Regions from separate parts of the Homo sapiens genome. Here region 2 is linked to region 1. The links come from fine-mapping of genetic effects on gene expression. Tissue or cell type: tibial artery. Region 1 holds a variant in brackets; the other region holds the start of a gene. All regions are shown on one strand. Distances are from middle to middle.

Region 1 (8,105 bases):
CCTGCGCCTGGCCTCCTCTAGGATTTTTAAAGCATCTTATGAATCTAAAAACTTCTCACATTCAGGATTCCACAAACTAGGTATCCTTCAGGCTTGAGATTCTGCTTCTGCGATGGATCCCAGGGAATATCCAAGGACCTATTTGCTGCCCTTGGGTGTCGCTGGGCAGGACTCTGCCTGCATCCCCCACCCCCCAATTTCTACGTCCTGCACCCTACCCCCACCCCCAGCAAGCCTGGCTAGGTCTCTGCTCCGCCAGGACCCTGGATGACCGTCCCCTGCCCCCAGGTCAGACAGCCCTGCACATCGCCATTGAGCGTCGCTGCAAACACTACGTGGAACTTCTCGTGGCCCAGGGAGCTGATGTCCACGCCCAGGCCCGTGGGCGCTTCTTCCAGCCCAAGGATGAGGGGGGCTACTTCTACTTTGGTAAGGAGGGGCCTGGTGGGGGCTGACAGCATGCTGGAGAAGCATGGCGGGAGATAGCATGATACTGGTTGGTGTCTGCAGCCCTGACCATCACCCAGACACCCAGGGCCACTCTGGCCATGAGCGCAGGCAGCACTCTGGACCACAGGCTGCACGTTGGTCTTGGTCACAGGGCCGTTGCCTCTGAGGTGTAAGTGCCATGGGGAGTACCATGGACCTGGATTCAGATCCTCACTCCAGCCAGGCACGGTGTCTCACACCTGTCATCCCAGCACTTTGGGAGGTCAAGGCAGGAGGATCGCTTGAGGGCAGGAGTTTGAGACCAGCCTAGGCAACATAGCAATACCCTGTCTCTTTTAAACATTTAAAAAATGGCTGGGCACGGTGGCTCATGCCTGTAATCCCAGCACTTTGGGAGGATGAGGCAGGTGGATCACCTGAGGTCAAGAGTTCAAGACCAGCCTGGCCAACAAGATGGTGAAACCCATCTCTACAAAAATAACAAAAATTAGCCGGGCATGGTGGTGGGTGCCTGTAATCCCAGCTACTTGGGAGGCTGAGGCAGGAGAATTGCTTGAACCTGGGGGACAGAGGTTGCAATGAGCCGAGATTTCCCCATTGCACTCCAGCTTGGGTGACAGAGTGAGACTCTGTCTCAAAAAATAAATAAATAAATAAATAAATAAATAAGTTAGATGGCATGGTGGCATGTGCTTGAAGTCCCAGCTGCTTGGGAGGCCGAGGCTGGAGGATCACTTGAACCTAGGAGTTCGAGGCTGCAGTAAGCCATGATTGCACCACTGCACTCCAGCCTGGAAAATAGAGCAAGACCCCGTCTTTAAAAAGCAAAAAGAAAAGAACAAAAAAAAAGCCAAATCCTCACTCTGCACTTTCCAGGCATGTGACCTCACTTCCCTGAGCCTCACCTTCCCCAGCTGTGCAGTGGGGATCACGAGAGGCCCTTGGGCTGTGATGTCAGCGCCCAGCTCTGTATTGTCTGTGTGCTTTAATCTGGTTTATGCTGGGACCAACAGCCCCATCACCAGGCCCAAAGCCCACCACTGCCGTTGTCATCACTGGACTCATGAAATATTTTGAATTTTGCCCCTGCTTAAAGGCATTCATTATGTGCAGCTCAGGGACAAAGTCACACAAAGAATTCCATCATCAGCTGGGCGCGGTGGCTCACGCCTGTAATCCCAGCACTTTGGGAGGCCGAGGTCGGCGGATCACTTGAGGTCAGGAGTTTGAGACCAGCCTGGCCAACATGGCGAAATCCTGCCTCTACTAAAAATACAAAAATTAGCCAGGTGTGGTGGCGTGCGCCTGTAATCCCAGCTACTCGGCTGAGGCACAAGAACTGCTTGCACCCGGGAGGTGGAGGTTGCAATGAGCCGAGATTGTGCCACTGCACTCCAGCCTAGGCGACAGAGTGAGACTTTGTCTCAAAAAAAAAAAAAAAAAGAATTCCATCATTGGATGTGTCCAGTCCCTCACAGCCTCCAAATCGCGTGGCTGTGCCCTTAACTAGCCACACCCCATCTCCCTGGCATCACCCAGAGAAACGTGCAGTTCATATCCACTGCTGGTGCTGTCTCCGTCATTATCCTCAGAGCGCCACGGTGTCCGTCCCCCGAGTGTCTGCAGGCAGAGTCCCACCCTGGGCCCCCTTCGCTGACCTCCCACCCTTCACCCTGGCCCGCAGGGGAGCTGCCCCTGTCGCTGGCTGCCTGCACCAACCAGCCCCACATTGTCAACTACCTGACGGAGAACCCCCACAAGAAGGCGGACATGCGGCGCCAGGACTCGCGAGGCAACACAGTGCTGCATGCGCTGGTGGCCATTGCTGACAACACCCGTGAGAACACCAAGTTTGTTACCAAGATGTACGACCTGCTGCTGCTCAAGTGTGCCCGCCTCTTCCCCGACAGCAACCTGGAGGCCGTGCTCAACAACGACGGCCTCTCGCCCCTCATGATGGCTGCCAAGACGGGCAAGATTGGGGTGAGTGTGCGGCTGGGGGCACAGCTGATCCACCTACTCGTACCCCTCTGCACACACACACGAGGGTCTGCTGCTGGTATTCATTATTAATACGTGCATGCACCTCCCAACATGCCAACCCCAGTGTGCAGATGTCCCAGCTCAAGAACCTGCTATGGCTCCCTAGTGTCCAGCCAAGCTCCTTAGCTTCATCCCCGAGCCTCTCGCCTCATGTCACCCTACTGGATGTTCACCACTCCACCCCCACCAGCCAGGATGAGCCACTGATAAGAAACTGAGTCCCCGGGCCCTAGCCCAGCGGTGCTCCCAGCCTCAAACCTGTTGAATGGCCCTGCCCCAGTTCCTTCCCTTTTCTGGGCCGCGCAGCATGGGGCCTGGAGAAGGGTTTCTCAACTTCAGCATGATTATTTTGGGCGGCAGGCTCTTTGTGGTGGGGACCGTCTTGTGCTATTGCCAGACATTGATCTGCATCCCGGGCCTCTACCCACCAGATGCCAGGAACACCTCCCCTTACACTTGTGACCACCAAAAATATCTCCAGAACATTGCTGAATTGTCCTCTGGGGGGCACCATCGCTGGATTGGGAACCAAGTCTGGAGTATGCTAGAGGCAGGAGCACCTGTCCAAGCCCTGGCGCTACCACTTCCCAGTGTGTGACCTCAGACATCTCATTTCCCTTTTCTGTGCCTCAGTTTCCTTGTCTGTAAAATGGGGATATAAGAGTGTCCTCTGGTGTGGTGTTGTGACAAATGCGGTGATCCACATAAGGCTCTTAGGAAGGAGCCTGGGAGAAGCAGTAAGTGTCACTTACATGTCTGTAATGCCAGCTAGTTGGGAGGCTGAGGTGAGAGGATCGTTTAAGTCCAGCCTGGATTATTTGAGATCCCAAATAAATAAAAACCAAAATAAAAAAAAATGTAGCAAAAATTACTAAAATTGCAATTATACCATGGCCCTGAGGCAGTAGAAAGGCTCCAGTTTAAATCCTGGCTTTGGCTAGGCTCAGTGGCTCGTGTCTGTAATCCTAGCACTTTGGGAGGCTGAGGTGGGAGGAGCACTTGAGCCCAGGAGGTTGAGGCTGCAATGAGCTGTGATAGTGCCATTGCACTCCAGCCTGGGCAACAGAGCCAGACCCTGTCTCAAAAAACCCCAAAATCCTGGCTGTGCACAGTGGCTCATGCCTGTAATCCCAGCACTTTGGGAGGCCGAGGTGGGCGGATCACCTGAGGTCAGGAGTTCAAGACCAGCCTGGCCAACATGGTGAAACCCCGTCTCTACTAAAAATACAAAAATATTAGCTGGGTGTGATAGTGGGCACCTGTAATCCCAGCTACTCAGGAGGCTGAGGCAGGAGAATTGCTTGAACCTAGGAGGAGAGGGTTGCAGTGTGCTGAGATCGCGCCACTGCACTCCAGCCTGGGTGACAGAGAGAGACTCTGTCTCAAAACAAAAACCCCAAAATCCTAACATTGCCTGACCTTGGGCAATTCCCACCCCTCTCTGTGCCTCCGCTTCCCTGTGTGTAAGCCAGGGAAGGAGGAGTGGTAACAGGAAGGACCGCATGTGATCGTCAGTATTATAATTCACATGTCATTAAGATGGATTCATTGCTATTTTAACGGCATGAAGAAGATATTCATTACAATTAAGATGTTGAAGGCTCATCCAGGTTCTGTCTGGCTCCAGCTGACTGGTTAAGTGGCTTCTGGAACACCCTTCGTTTTTCCCAGCCTCCATTCTTTATCTGTAAACCAAGATAATAAGAGCAAGAATTAAACAAGATGAGGAAAGGGTCCTCCAGCAGCCGGTGCTTAGCTGTTTTCTGGGGAGGCGTCATGTGCTGAGCTGGGCCCAGCCCTGGGGGTCTTTCCAGTGTGAGCCCCCTGACCCTCCTGGCC[C/T]CCTGTGCAGATCTTTCAGCACATCATCCGGCGGGAGGTGACGGATGAGGACACACGGCACCTGTCCCGCAAGTTCAAGGACTGGGCCTATGGGCCAGTGTATTCCTCGCTTTATGACCTCTCCTCCCTGGACACGTGTGGGGAAGAGGCCTCCGTGCTGGAGATCCTGGTGTACAACAGCAAGATTGAGGTGGGCTCCAGGAGGGGGCATGGGGTGTGAGGAAGGAGGGGCAGGGCTGGGAGTAGGGACAGGGCCCTGGGGCTGGGCTGGGGGAGACAGCCCCAGCCTCTAGGACCCAACGTGGTGGGTCTGTTGGCTGAATGCAAGAGAAGGTGCCAACTAAGTGCCCAGAACAGTGTCTGCCATGTGAGGAAATGAGCAAGACTTGTGGGAAGATGGACTTTTGGGGCAGGTAGGACTGGGTTGGGATCCTGGCTCTGTAACTTACATGCTGTGTGTCTCAGGACAAGTGGCTCCACCTCTCTGGGTCTCAGCTTCTTCATTTGTAACCTGGGGATAAGGATCATGGATATCCCATGGGGTTCTTGGGAGGACCAAAGAGGTTAATTTTAGAATGGCTTGGCACAGAGTAAACATTATGTCAGCTTTTACTACTCATGGTTGTTATATGAACTTTTGAAAGCTCTTTTTTTTCGGTCAGGCATGGTGGCTTATGCCTGTAATTCTAGCATTTTGGGGAGCCAAGGTGGGCGGATTGCTTGAAGCCAGGAGTTTGAGACTAGCCTGGGCAATATGGCGAAACCCCGTCTCTACCAAAAAAAAATAATAAAAATGAAAATTAGCTAGGCATGGTGGTGCGAGCCTGTAGTCCCAGCTACTTGGGAGGCGAGGTGGGAGGATCACCTGAGCCTGGGGAGGTCGAGGCTTCAGTGAGCCGAGATCATGCCACTGCACTCCAGCCTGGGTGACAGAGTGAGATCCTGTCTCAAAATAAACAAACAAACAAACAAACAAAAAACCAAGCTTTTTTTTCCCTACTTAGCAGTATTTTGTGAACGTCGTTCTGTACTTTTAAATATTCTTTGGTAATATTGTCGCTGCATGTAAACATACCATATTCAAATGAACTGTTCTCTTATTGCTGGTCGCTTGGGTTTGTTTCTGCCTTTATCAGGAATAACACTATAAGAGCATCTCTGTGGCTGCTTTATTGCACAAATCATGATTATAGAGAAACTCAAGTTAATAAAGGGCTAGGAAGCTATAAAAATGGAGCAGAAAATGCTGGGGACTGGGTGCAGGTGGTCTTCCTTCTAGCCCTGCCCTGTGGCTTACTGGTCTGTGAGCTTGGCTTCCTTGCAAGACCTCATTTCCCTCATTTTTTGAATTAGTGACCATCTTGATTTAAATTAGTGGTGGCAGGAGGTTTAGCATCTCAGGTGCAAACTGATTGATTAGTAGTGTCTACCCAGGGAACTGTATGAATACAATTGTGCAGGGCTCAATTATTGATGTCTGCCCTGGGTTCAGAATTGGAGAATTGTGGTGAGTCAATCATTTATCATCTTTGGGCAAAATTTCTCAATCTTTCTCTCTGAATCAGAATTTCTGAGAGCGGAGGCCAGGATTTATACTTGCAGCAAGTTACATAAATTATTTTGCGGCCAGCAGCTTGGTACTATCCACAGATTGGAGTTTGGGAACCATGAGAATAAATGTCTTTTTTTCTTTTTTGAGATGGAGTCTCACTCTTGTTGCCCAGGCTGGAGTGCAGTAGTGCGATCTAGGCTCACTGCAATCTCCGCCTCCCAGGTTCAAGTGATTCTCCTGCCTCAGCCTTAGGAGTAGCTGGGATTACAGGTGTGCACCACCACGCCCGGCTAATTGTTGTGTTTTTAGTGGAGACAGGGTTTCACCACATTGGCCAGGCTGATCTTGAACTGCTGACCTTAGGTGATCCGCCTGTCTTGGCCTCCCAAAGTGCTAGGATTACAGGCATGAGCCACTGCGGCCGGCCTGAAAATAAATGTCTTTTAAGGGACTTTCCAGTTCCGAGTTCTGTGATGCTAGAATAGGGTGGAAAGGTACATTGAGGCAGAATTGGGCAGCTGAATCCATTCATGAATCCGTGAATGCAGCTGAGGAATGGATGGAAAGAGAAAGCGCTGTCCGGGTGGAGGGTGGGGGAAGGCACACCCGAGGCAGCCTGCCTGGACCCCCCACCCATCTCAGGAAGGCAGCCCCCGACCACCCTGCCTCTCTTAGAACCGCCACGAGATGCTGGCTGTGGAGCCCATCAATGAACTGCTGCGGGACAAGTGGCGCAAGTTCGGGGCCGTCTCCTTCTACATCAACGTGGTCTCCTACCTGTGTGCCATGGTCATCTTCACTCTCACCGCCTACTACCAGCCGCTGGAGGGCACAGTGAGTGCCCGGGGACCGGGCAGGGGCTGGGGCAGGCACTGGGCTGAGCCATGCAGGACTGGGGCACAACCTCATCCTTCTGGGTCCCCTGTAGGGGGACCCGGAGAAGGTTTAGGAACAGGTTGGGGAGGCGCCCTCCAGCATCCACGGGTGGCCCTGAGCTGGGAGGAGGAAGACTCAGGAGGAAGAGAGTGAAGGAGGAGGCTCCATGGGATGCCGATGTTTCGGGCCTGGGGGAACATCTGGATTGGGGGCCAGATGTTGGAGGGGCTGGGTGACGACCTGTGTGCCCTTGCTGCTCCCCAGCCGCCGTACCCTTACCGCACCACGGTGGACTACCTGCGGCTGGCTGGCGAGGTCATTACGCTCTTCACTGGGGTCCTGTTCTTCTTCACCAACGTAAGTGCCTGGCCCCCGTGCCCCCCACCCTGCCTGCCCTCCTCTTCTCTTCCTGCACCTCTTTTCTCTCCCTCTTTTTCTCTTCTCTCTCCTCCAAATGGTCCTTCTCCTTTCCTTCCTCCTTTTATTTTCCCATTTCTCTTCTACCTCCTCCAATCCCACGTTCTCCATCTCTGCTTTTTTCTCCTTTTCTAACAGGAAAGAGTCCTTTGTCTTTTCTCTGTACCAGCCTCTGCCTCCCTCTCTTCTATCCCTTTCTCTGTCTCCTCTCTCCTCCTCTCCTCTCCTGCTGGCCCCACCCCTTTCACGTGCCCCCTCCTGTCTTCCAGATCAAAGACTTGTTCATGAAGAAATGCCCTGGAGTGAATTCTCTCTTCATTGATGGCTCCTTCCAGCTGCTCTAGTGAGTAGAGGTCCCTGGGCCGGCAGCTTCTGGGTGAGGAAGGTGGGTTTGGGCTGCTAGGTCGTCCAGATTCAGGAGAGAGGTGATTCTGTTAGAAATGAATGCACCCAACCTGGGCAGCTCTAACCCAAAGTCAGGACAAAGCCACAAACAATAGGGTCTTCTGGTTCAAGAAAAATTCTGATTGCTAGGGAGTTATCATATACAACATGGATAGAAATAATTTTAACCTCTTATGCTGGTGAATGATTGCTAATGTCTGCCTGAAGTGCCATGTTAAGAATTTTGCACCTGTGTCTGTGTTTAGTGGGAAAGAGTTGGGATTGATTAATGATGTCTGCCTGGGACAGAGAATGAGAGAGTTACTGAGTGTGTGTTACCTCTTTCACATTTCCCTTAGAGTTGGAGAATGATGAAATTCACTTAGCCACAAAATCTCCACTGAACACCACTAAATCTTTCTTTAGCAATTCCAAGGGGCATCACTTCAGGATCCTGTGGGACCTCAGGATTAATTGCCAGCTAATTGAATGTTCTTGTTAACAGAATGCTGGGGAACCCTGCTAATCCACTTTGTTTCTTTTC
Region 2 (8,105 bases), 490 kb before region 1:
GGTAAACCCCATCTCTACTAAAAATACAAAAATTAGCCGGGCGTGGTGGTGGACATCTGTAATCCCAGCTACTCAGGAGGCTGAGGCAGGAGAATCACTTGAACCCAGGAGGTGGAGGTTGCAGTGAGCCGAGATTGCACCACTGCGCTCCAGCCCGGGCAACAAGAGTGAGACTCCATCTACATTTAAAAAAAAAAAAAAAAAAAAGCACTAACTCAAGGGGGTCTAGTAGGAAGAAAAGAGACACACACATGCAAATGGTCAAATGTAACCTAAAGGTTGAGAAGTACCACAGTCTAGAAAGTTTTATTAGCATTTTAGGGTCAATCTAAGTAGCTGACATGGGAAACGACGGTGGAAGGTAGAGAAACCTATGCAAATTATTACCATATTAATTATGACTTTATGATTTAGACAGATGGGAGACCAACATGGCCCTAATGCCCACCTCCTTCAGATCTTTTCGCAAATGTCACCTTCCTCAAGAACTTTCCGGACCACCCAATTTGAAAACTGTTCCCCCTTTCACATACTCTGATATCCAAACCCCCTTGCTTTATTTTTCTCAGCAGTATTATCCTCCAGGTAAGGGTCTCTGTCTGTTTTATTCACTACTGTATCCCCAGTGTCTGTGACAGGTGCTCAATAAATATCTTAACAAAGCAGGAAAAGAGAAGAAAGGGCAGGCATCAGTTAAGCAACCATACGATGTGTTACATTTAGAACAAAGTTGGTAATCAAGAAGAGAATGAAAAGATAAAGTGAATGATAGAGGGGGGGTCTTCAGTGTCAAATTAAGCAATTTCTAATGTTCATATGCACTGGAAGATGAAGCTTATTTCTTTCAATCCAAGTGACCGTTTCAAAAAAACACTTTGGCCAATATTACAAATTAAACTAGATCCCTACAGGTCACAAGCATAGCTTCCTATTCTATGCCACAGCAAAATATTAACTATAGTTAACAGTTTACTACTTAGTTTGATATTTGAAGTAAGTCACTAATATTCTTTTTAATTTAAGCATGACTTGATGACGCATGATGTATATAAGAATCGCCTAGTCACTTCTCCAAAAAAACCTGAATATTCTACCATGTTTTTTCTGTTACATCAATAGGAATAAACTGACACAAAAAGAGAGTCAGTGCTCTTTCTTTTAAAAGATACAGACAGGAGGAATGAAACACTAAAGACAATGCAGCAGCAGTACCCAACCCCACATGAAGAAAATCAACACAACAGGTCTTATATCTGCAATTCCTTGATCAAACAAACCAAAGCAAATTAATTCTATAGAAGTACTCCCTAAACACTTATTCTTTTGCTATTTACCAACTCATAAAATAAAAATGTAACACAGTTCATTTCCTGAGCAGTAACTCCACAGTTACCAAAAAGGAGCTCAAATTTCAACTCCAAAATATAGCTCTATAATGCTCCACAAAGCCAAGGTCCTATCTTATAAAAAAAATTAAAGCATTTATTTAAAAACCTGCTTGAAATGCTTACAAACTATAAGCCTCTAATTACTTCAAAGTAAAAAATGAACAAACAAAACCCACACACATCATTAATTTAAAATGCTAATATAAAGTCACTCAAACTGGCCACTCAAAAAACAGACCCAGTGCAACCCCAATAGTAACACCAGTGGCATGGTTTCCCACACTGCTTCAACTTGTAACACAGAGAATTCAGTAAAAATGTATTTTGCTTCTGGCTTGTAGTCAGCTGATTAATTTTTAAGAAGTTCCCAATGACCTTATCGGACCCCATTATTTAACTGCCAACGCTATTATGTACCCAGTTAAATACAAATCTTACACTAGCTCCAAATGTATCATTTATTTTGCCCCATGACAATGTATTGATAAACTATAGTTAATCGGGTCTACTCATTTCCCTTAATTGGTAAAACAGCAGCCATTTTCTGGGGGAAAATTTTTTAATCAATCAAGAAGAAACATTTTATCAGAGGTACATTGTGACTGACTCAGAATGCTGAATGGTTTGCTATGTAAGTCCCCATTTTAATCAATGAAAACCACAGAAAAGGTTCTTGGGGACTGAATTATTAATGGCTACACAATACTTGGCTAATATGGCATAATAAAGTATCATAGCAGGATTTATGTAAAAATTATTCCACAAATTTATTTACTGCTGCCACTATCTACTTAAAAGATGGGTATAAATTTAATCTTTTCCTCATCTGAACTAAATAAATGCCCACTGCTTTGTTTATTTCGTTCTCAAAATAGCCCTCTATGGTATGGTTCTCACAAAGACTGAGGCTGATCCCTGGGACCTGCATACATATATGTACAAGAACTGAAACCGTGAAGTTTTGTCAATTTTGTTTTAACTAGAAAGAAGTACTGCACTGGGTGAATTTCACTTATCGTGGTTTTTGTAAGAATAACGTAATTCAAGAATAAAAGGCATCTCATGCTATTAGAATTAGGAACATCTGTGTCCTATTCCTGACCATTTTTAGGAAAACTAGCAAGCAATCTACTGCCCAAGAAAAAAAATGCAACAAAAAATTAATACCGAACATTTAAAAAAAAGTTAAAAACCTAGAAATATACTTGCCACCCCAACACCCTTTTTCTGCTGTAGTTCTTTGCATTTCACTAGTTTCTTAGCAACCATATAGCACTCAAGTGGGTAAGCACACACAGAACAAGAAAAAACACCATGCTGGTTTTTTTCCTTTAAGATCTAGAACCAACTGTACTAAACCTTGTTCTTTCAACCTAAGAATCACTTAAGACAGGGGTCCAATTTAGATAAATATACCACCCTAAAGGTCAGTGACCAAATTTGGTCAACAAGGGTGCCATCACAGCCGTCATCATTCTTGTCACCGTCAGGAACAACTGTCACCTTGCCATTACCAGGAAGGGAAAGCAACTGGAATATTCCTTTTGTAAGTTCTATTTACAGACTACAAAGAGTCCAACATCATCTTAGTATGATCTTACAACACGATAACAATGGAAGAACCCAAAACATTAAAGGCTTCCCAGAAAAGAACTTTTTGATATTAAAAGCTGATAAACCACAAGAATTTCTAAGACCATGCCACACTCTGGGACAACTCCTAACCACACTGTAAATGTCAGGCATCTATTTTCTGAATACCAATGGCTTCAAGTGTTTTGTTTTGTAATTTTAAAATGCCCAGATTGTTTTTAAACATAGAGACACAGCTTGCAACTCCAAATATGTTTTCACCCAATGGACATCATTTGTTTTCTGATTTATCTATGGAATACTTTCAGCTTTTGGGGGGAAAGAAAATAAATTTTTTTATACTTACAAAAGATATACATGCTGCCAGTAATAAAATCCTAACTAGCAAGTCTTCAAACTGCTCAATCACAAGTTCCAGCAAGGTTTTTCCTGTAAGAAACAAACACATGTGTTTTAACTGTCATCTTACCATCAGCACACCAACAGAGGAAAAAAAACAGAAACAGCATGTTAAGATTACCTTCTTCAGCCGGTAACTCTGTAGAATGTAGAAATTCGTCAAGCAATGTGTCAAGAGGGAGGTTAAAAAAAAAAAGAGAGAGACATTTTAGCACTTCGTTTTTCTAAAAAGAACTGCTACAATTCTAAGCATCAATATCTTTAAAACACAGACCTAGCTATAAGAATATCCGATTTTTTTAGCAGAGGGCATACCACGAAGATATCTCAAGGAAGCATGCACTCTTTGTAATCAATGGCCTGAGGTCTAGCCCTAAGCGTGAAATCACTTCGGGCTCCTGAACCTAGGAGTGGTTTCAGCGATGTCATCACTTCTGCCAGATGTGTAACTTTGGGTAGGACAAGAACGGTCAGAGGCCTTCCAACGACCTCGACTCCTCATAAATCGGCAGGGGACGAGAAAACGTCTTGCCGGGCTCAACCTAGCTGCAGAAGCCACGTCCCTCCCTCCACCGGGGCCGGCTGCTGCTGGAGAGAAGCCTCCGAGCCTTGCGCGCCGAAAAGGTCGAGGGCCCGAGAAGCGAAGAGGTCCAGGGAAGGCGAGGCGAGGACCGCAGCCCCTTTCTCTCCCGCGGGGCCGGCGCGCTGGCCCGACCCTCCGCCCGCAGCTGTCGGCGGGCGCGGAGCCGAAGCCCACGAGGTGGAGCCCGGTCAGCCATCTTCCCTGGCTCTCCCGGCCGCGCCGGGCCCCTGCAGCGGAGCGCCCTGCACCTACCGTTGGAGCCCCATCTCTCCTTAAGCTTCTTGACCTGTTCCAGGCTCAGCCCCGTACTCTCGTTGACGCCGAAGTGGCCCAGCACCTCCTCCACCGTCTTGGTGTGCGCGTTCTCCATGGCTTCGGGGGCCCGGCCGGCCTCGCCTCCCGTCCCCGCGGCCTCCTCGCCTCCGCCTCGCACTCCGGCCGCGGGCTCGTGCCACCCCGGGAGCCCAGGCGCGGACGGGCTCTCCCCTCCTCCTCTTGCGGCCGCTTCCGCCTCGCCGGGCGCTGAATCACCCCGCGCCCCCTCCCCCAGACAACCGCCCCTCGCGCGGCCCCGAGCTCCGCAGGGCGGGTTGGGGGCTCCTGACCCACCCTCCCTCCCCTCGCCAGAAGGGAGGGCCTCCCTCGCCCTCAGCCGCCCGCCGGGAGGGCAGGCCGCGGCCCCCGAGCCCCCTCCCCGCTCTCTTGAGGCGATCAGAGGCCCCGCCCGGGCCGGAGGAGGGGGCGCCCGGCAGACCACTGAGGGCGGAACGCGGCGAGGGAGGCGAGCCGGCGGGGCGGTGCGCGGCGCGCTCGCCCGGGTCCCTCAGCGCCGCACGCCCGACAGCGGCGGAGGAAACTGCGGCGAAGGAAAAGGAGGTGGCGTCGGGGACGGCTCCGCGGCGGCTGCTCTAATAGCATTTATCGGCCGCTGCCTCCCCTTTCGCCGCCGCCGCGGCATGTGGACGCCGCTCATTGGCCGAGAGCGCCCAGCGCGGCGCGGGCGGCGCGGCCCCGCCCCCTCCTCCCGGCTCCCTCCTCCCGCGCGCCTGGCGCCCACGCTGCCGCGCAGGCCCCGCCCCCTCCCGCGCGCCGCCCCTAGGAACCCGGATCGAGGCCGCGCGCGCCGCGGTCGCGGGGCTGGCGGAGGGGAAGCTGGGTACCCTCTTCTGTGCCTGCGGTTCTCTGACCCACCCACCTGCAGACGCAGGGTGGGGCGCTCACAGTGGGCACGCTGCTCTGGGGCCGGTGGGCGGATGGTTGGAAGGCGAGGCCGAGGAGCTGGGAGCGCGGTCCACGCGGGGCGTCTCGAGGCGCCCTCGGGCTGATGTCCTTGGCTCGCCTCCTCGCCCTCGGTCGCCCGGGCTGCGCTCTGCATCCTAATCTGGCTCCTTCAGAGCCCCCCTCAGAAACCAAGGGGAGGAATTCCGCAGTTCACTTCCCACACAACCCAAATCCTTCATCTGTCGCCTCGGGAACACCGCATCCTACACCCCCTGCCGCCAGCTCCTTCGCACGCCAGCCCCGATTCTTCCCCAGCGGGTTCTGGGCCCTGACGAGGGAACCCCCCTCGCGGGGGGGAGGGAGAAGAGTTGATTTTATTATTAATAGCTGACGCAGCGCTTGATAGGTGTCTGCAGGGCAGTCACAGTTCACGCCGCTGGAGCTGCCACACAGCAGCTAGACTTGGGCTAGGAGGTGCTTCGCTGTGGCTTTCAGATGAAGGCCATTTCATAGACTCACTTCCCTCGACAGGAGAAAAGGGGACTTGAATCCAAAGCTGCTCTTAAACCACAGATGATTTGCTCTGCTCGGGAGGACAAAGCGCAGGTCACAGCAAGATAAAGGGAATTTTGCCAATATAAAGAAGCTACATTACTTAACAAGGGGATGGGAAATTGCATGGAATTCATGAACAAAACATGAACATATTCTCTTCACAAAGAAGAGCAGCTTTCTTCACGGAGTAGGTTGCAGAATGAAGCAATTAGTCCACTTTTGTGTTTAACAATAACGCACCATCCGCATGAGCAAAAGCAGAGCAGAAAAATCACCTCAGTTGTCTCAAGTGGCTGGGCTTCAGGACTTAAGATAAATTCCTTCAGCAGATGCAAATTACAGTGCATCACCAGCTGAAAAAATCAGGCACGTCATGTCATTTAATTATTTCCAAGGAGTGGACGTTGGCATGTAGTTTTGATTGATACTTGGAAAAGAACCAACAAAACCCTACACGAAACAAACAAACAAAAAATTATACTATATGGCAACGCACTGAGAGAAGCCAGGTGGAAACTGGTTAGGTCACAGGATCAGAGCCGCTTCAAGAGGGGCACGTGAGTGCACGGTGGGAGTGTGGTCATGGAGGGCTGGCTGTTGTTGCCCTCTGAGACCAGCTCTGCACCATTTCGTACCAATTCTTCTCCCTTACCTCCTCTGTCTCTTTCAGGACCGATAGAAGCACTGCAGGCAGGAGAAGGATGGTTTACCTTTCTCAGCCTGGAAATTAGCTTAGGCATTTGATGTTGAATATTCTGTGCCACTGTCACTGCTTGGGGTTGTAAGCACCTCTGGTGCAATTATGAGCTTCTGGAGGAGTTCCTGACCTCAGCCTTTGTATGGAATGCTCTTCCCACAGATCTTCTTCACTTGTGTCGTTCTCTTTCCATTCAGATCGCAGCTTACATGTCCCCTCCTCAGAGATGTCTTTGCTGTCTAAAGTGGCTACCCAGCCACAGTGGCTCACGTCTGTAATCCCAGCATTTTGGGAGGCTGAGGCAGGAGGATCCCTTGAGCCCAGGAGTTTGAGACCAGCCTGGGCAATATAGCGAGACTCCATCTCTACTAAAAAAAAAAAAGAAAAAAATTAGCTGGGCGTGGTGGCCTGAACCTTTAGTCCCAGCTACTCAGGAGGCTAAAGAGAGAGGATCGCTTGAACCCAGGAGGTCAAGACTGCAGTGATCTGTGATCACGCCACTGCACTCCAGCCTGAGCAACAACAGAGTGAGACCTTGTCTCAAAAAAAAAATTAAATAATAAATAAATTAAAAAGTGGCTACTCTCGGCAATTCACCTTCCATCACATTTTTCAGTTTTCTTTTCTTCTTTTTTTTCCTTTGAGACAGAGTCTCTCTCTGTCACCCAGGCTGGAGGACAGCAGCACAATCCCAGCTCACCACAACCTCGGCCTCCTGGGTTCAAGCAGTTCTTGTGCCTCCGCCTCCCAAGTAGCTGGGACTACAGGTGCACGCCACCATGCCTGCCTCATTTTTGTATTTTTAGTAGAGATGGGGTTTCACCATGTTGGCCAGGCTGGCTTCGAACTGACCTCAGGTAATCTGCCTGCCTCGGCCTCCCAAAGTGCTGGGATTACAGGCATGAGCCACCGTGCCCGGTCAGTTTTCTTCACAGTGCTTACTTGTGATGTTGTATTTTGGTTTAGCTGTTAACTGCTTGTCTCCTAGTGTCTCATGGAGCTCTAGGACAGAAGCTCCATAAGAACAGGGCCTGTCCATCTTGTCCATCCTCAGTACAAAGAACAGTCCCTAGTCTATGCTCCTCATTTATTAAATGCCTGCTGTTTGAATGAATGAATTAGTCCCACCATCCCTAGCCCATAAGTGACTTGCAAAGGGCCTCCCCCATAGGAAGGCCTCAGCAAATTTTCAGTGAACTCAAGTTCATTGATTTCCAATTTGTGAAATAAACTAGAGGGCCTCTCTGAACTACCTGCCTCATGAGAATGACTGTGAAGTGTAGTCAGTTTAAAACAAACAGACAAAAACAAAGCTAGACAGCATTACAGGTTTCTCAGAAAGAAGGAAGGTTCAAGTTCACATTGGTACTGTTACCACGTTGCCATTGCCCTCCTAGACTGTTCTCTGCAAGCTTTCTATTTACTGGAGGCTGGAATACTCTCTTAAGCTGAAACAGTGTGATTTTAAGCCCAGAATTGGCCCCCTTAGACATCATCATAACAATTATGCTCTTGGTTCCTCAACCTGCTGGTGTCTCTGAAAGCTGTTGTTGATGGGTTGCCAAAATTTATCAGAAACGCAGTCTCCCAAAGGCAGAAATATCTAGTTTCTCTCATGTAGAAATAAACTTGTGCTTAATTTATTTTATGCATCGTGTTGTACTTGCTT

The links. PIP is the estimated chance that this variant, and not a neighbour inherited with it, causes the effect.
Region 2: it holds the start of ATP2A2, and the variant in region 1 is fine-mapped to the expression of ATP2A2 in tibial artery (GTEx, PIP 0.91).

The regions. Positions count from the first base shown.
Region 1 is chr12:109,792,942-109,801,046 of GRCh38, reverse strand. It overlaps TRPV4 (transient receptor potential cation channel subfamily V member 4), which reads left to right. Exons shown (of 16, transcript NM_021625.5): 5 at 289-429; 6 at 2,135-2,433; 7 at 4,343-4,522; 8 at 6,560-6,718; 9 at 7,025-7,117; 10 at 7,447-7,520. Among named protein-coding and RNA genes, the nearest start is that of FAM222A-AS1, 24 kb to the right of the region's middle. The variant C/T (reference allele first, on the strand shown) is at 4,333.
Region 2 is chr12:110,278,018-110,286,122 of GRCh38, reverse strand. It overlaps ATP2A2 (ATPase sarcoplasmic/endoplasmic reticulum Ca2+ transporting 2), which reads right to left and starts at 4,876. Exons shown (of 20, transcript NM_170665.4): 1 at 4,216-4,876; 2 at 3,502-3,519; 3 at 3,328-3,410. The coding sequence starts at 4,333. RefSeq lists enhancers at 3,427-4,181, 5,299-5,368 and silencers at 4,009-4,518, 4,609-5,208.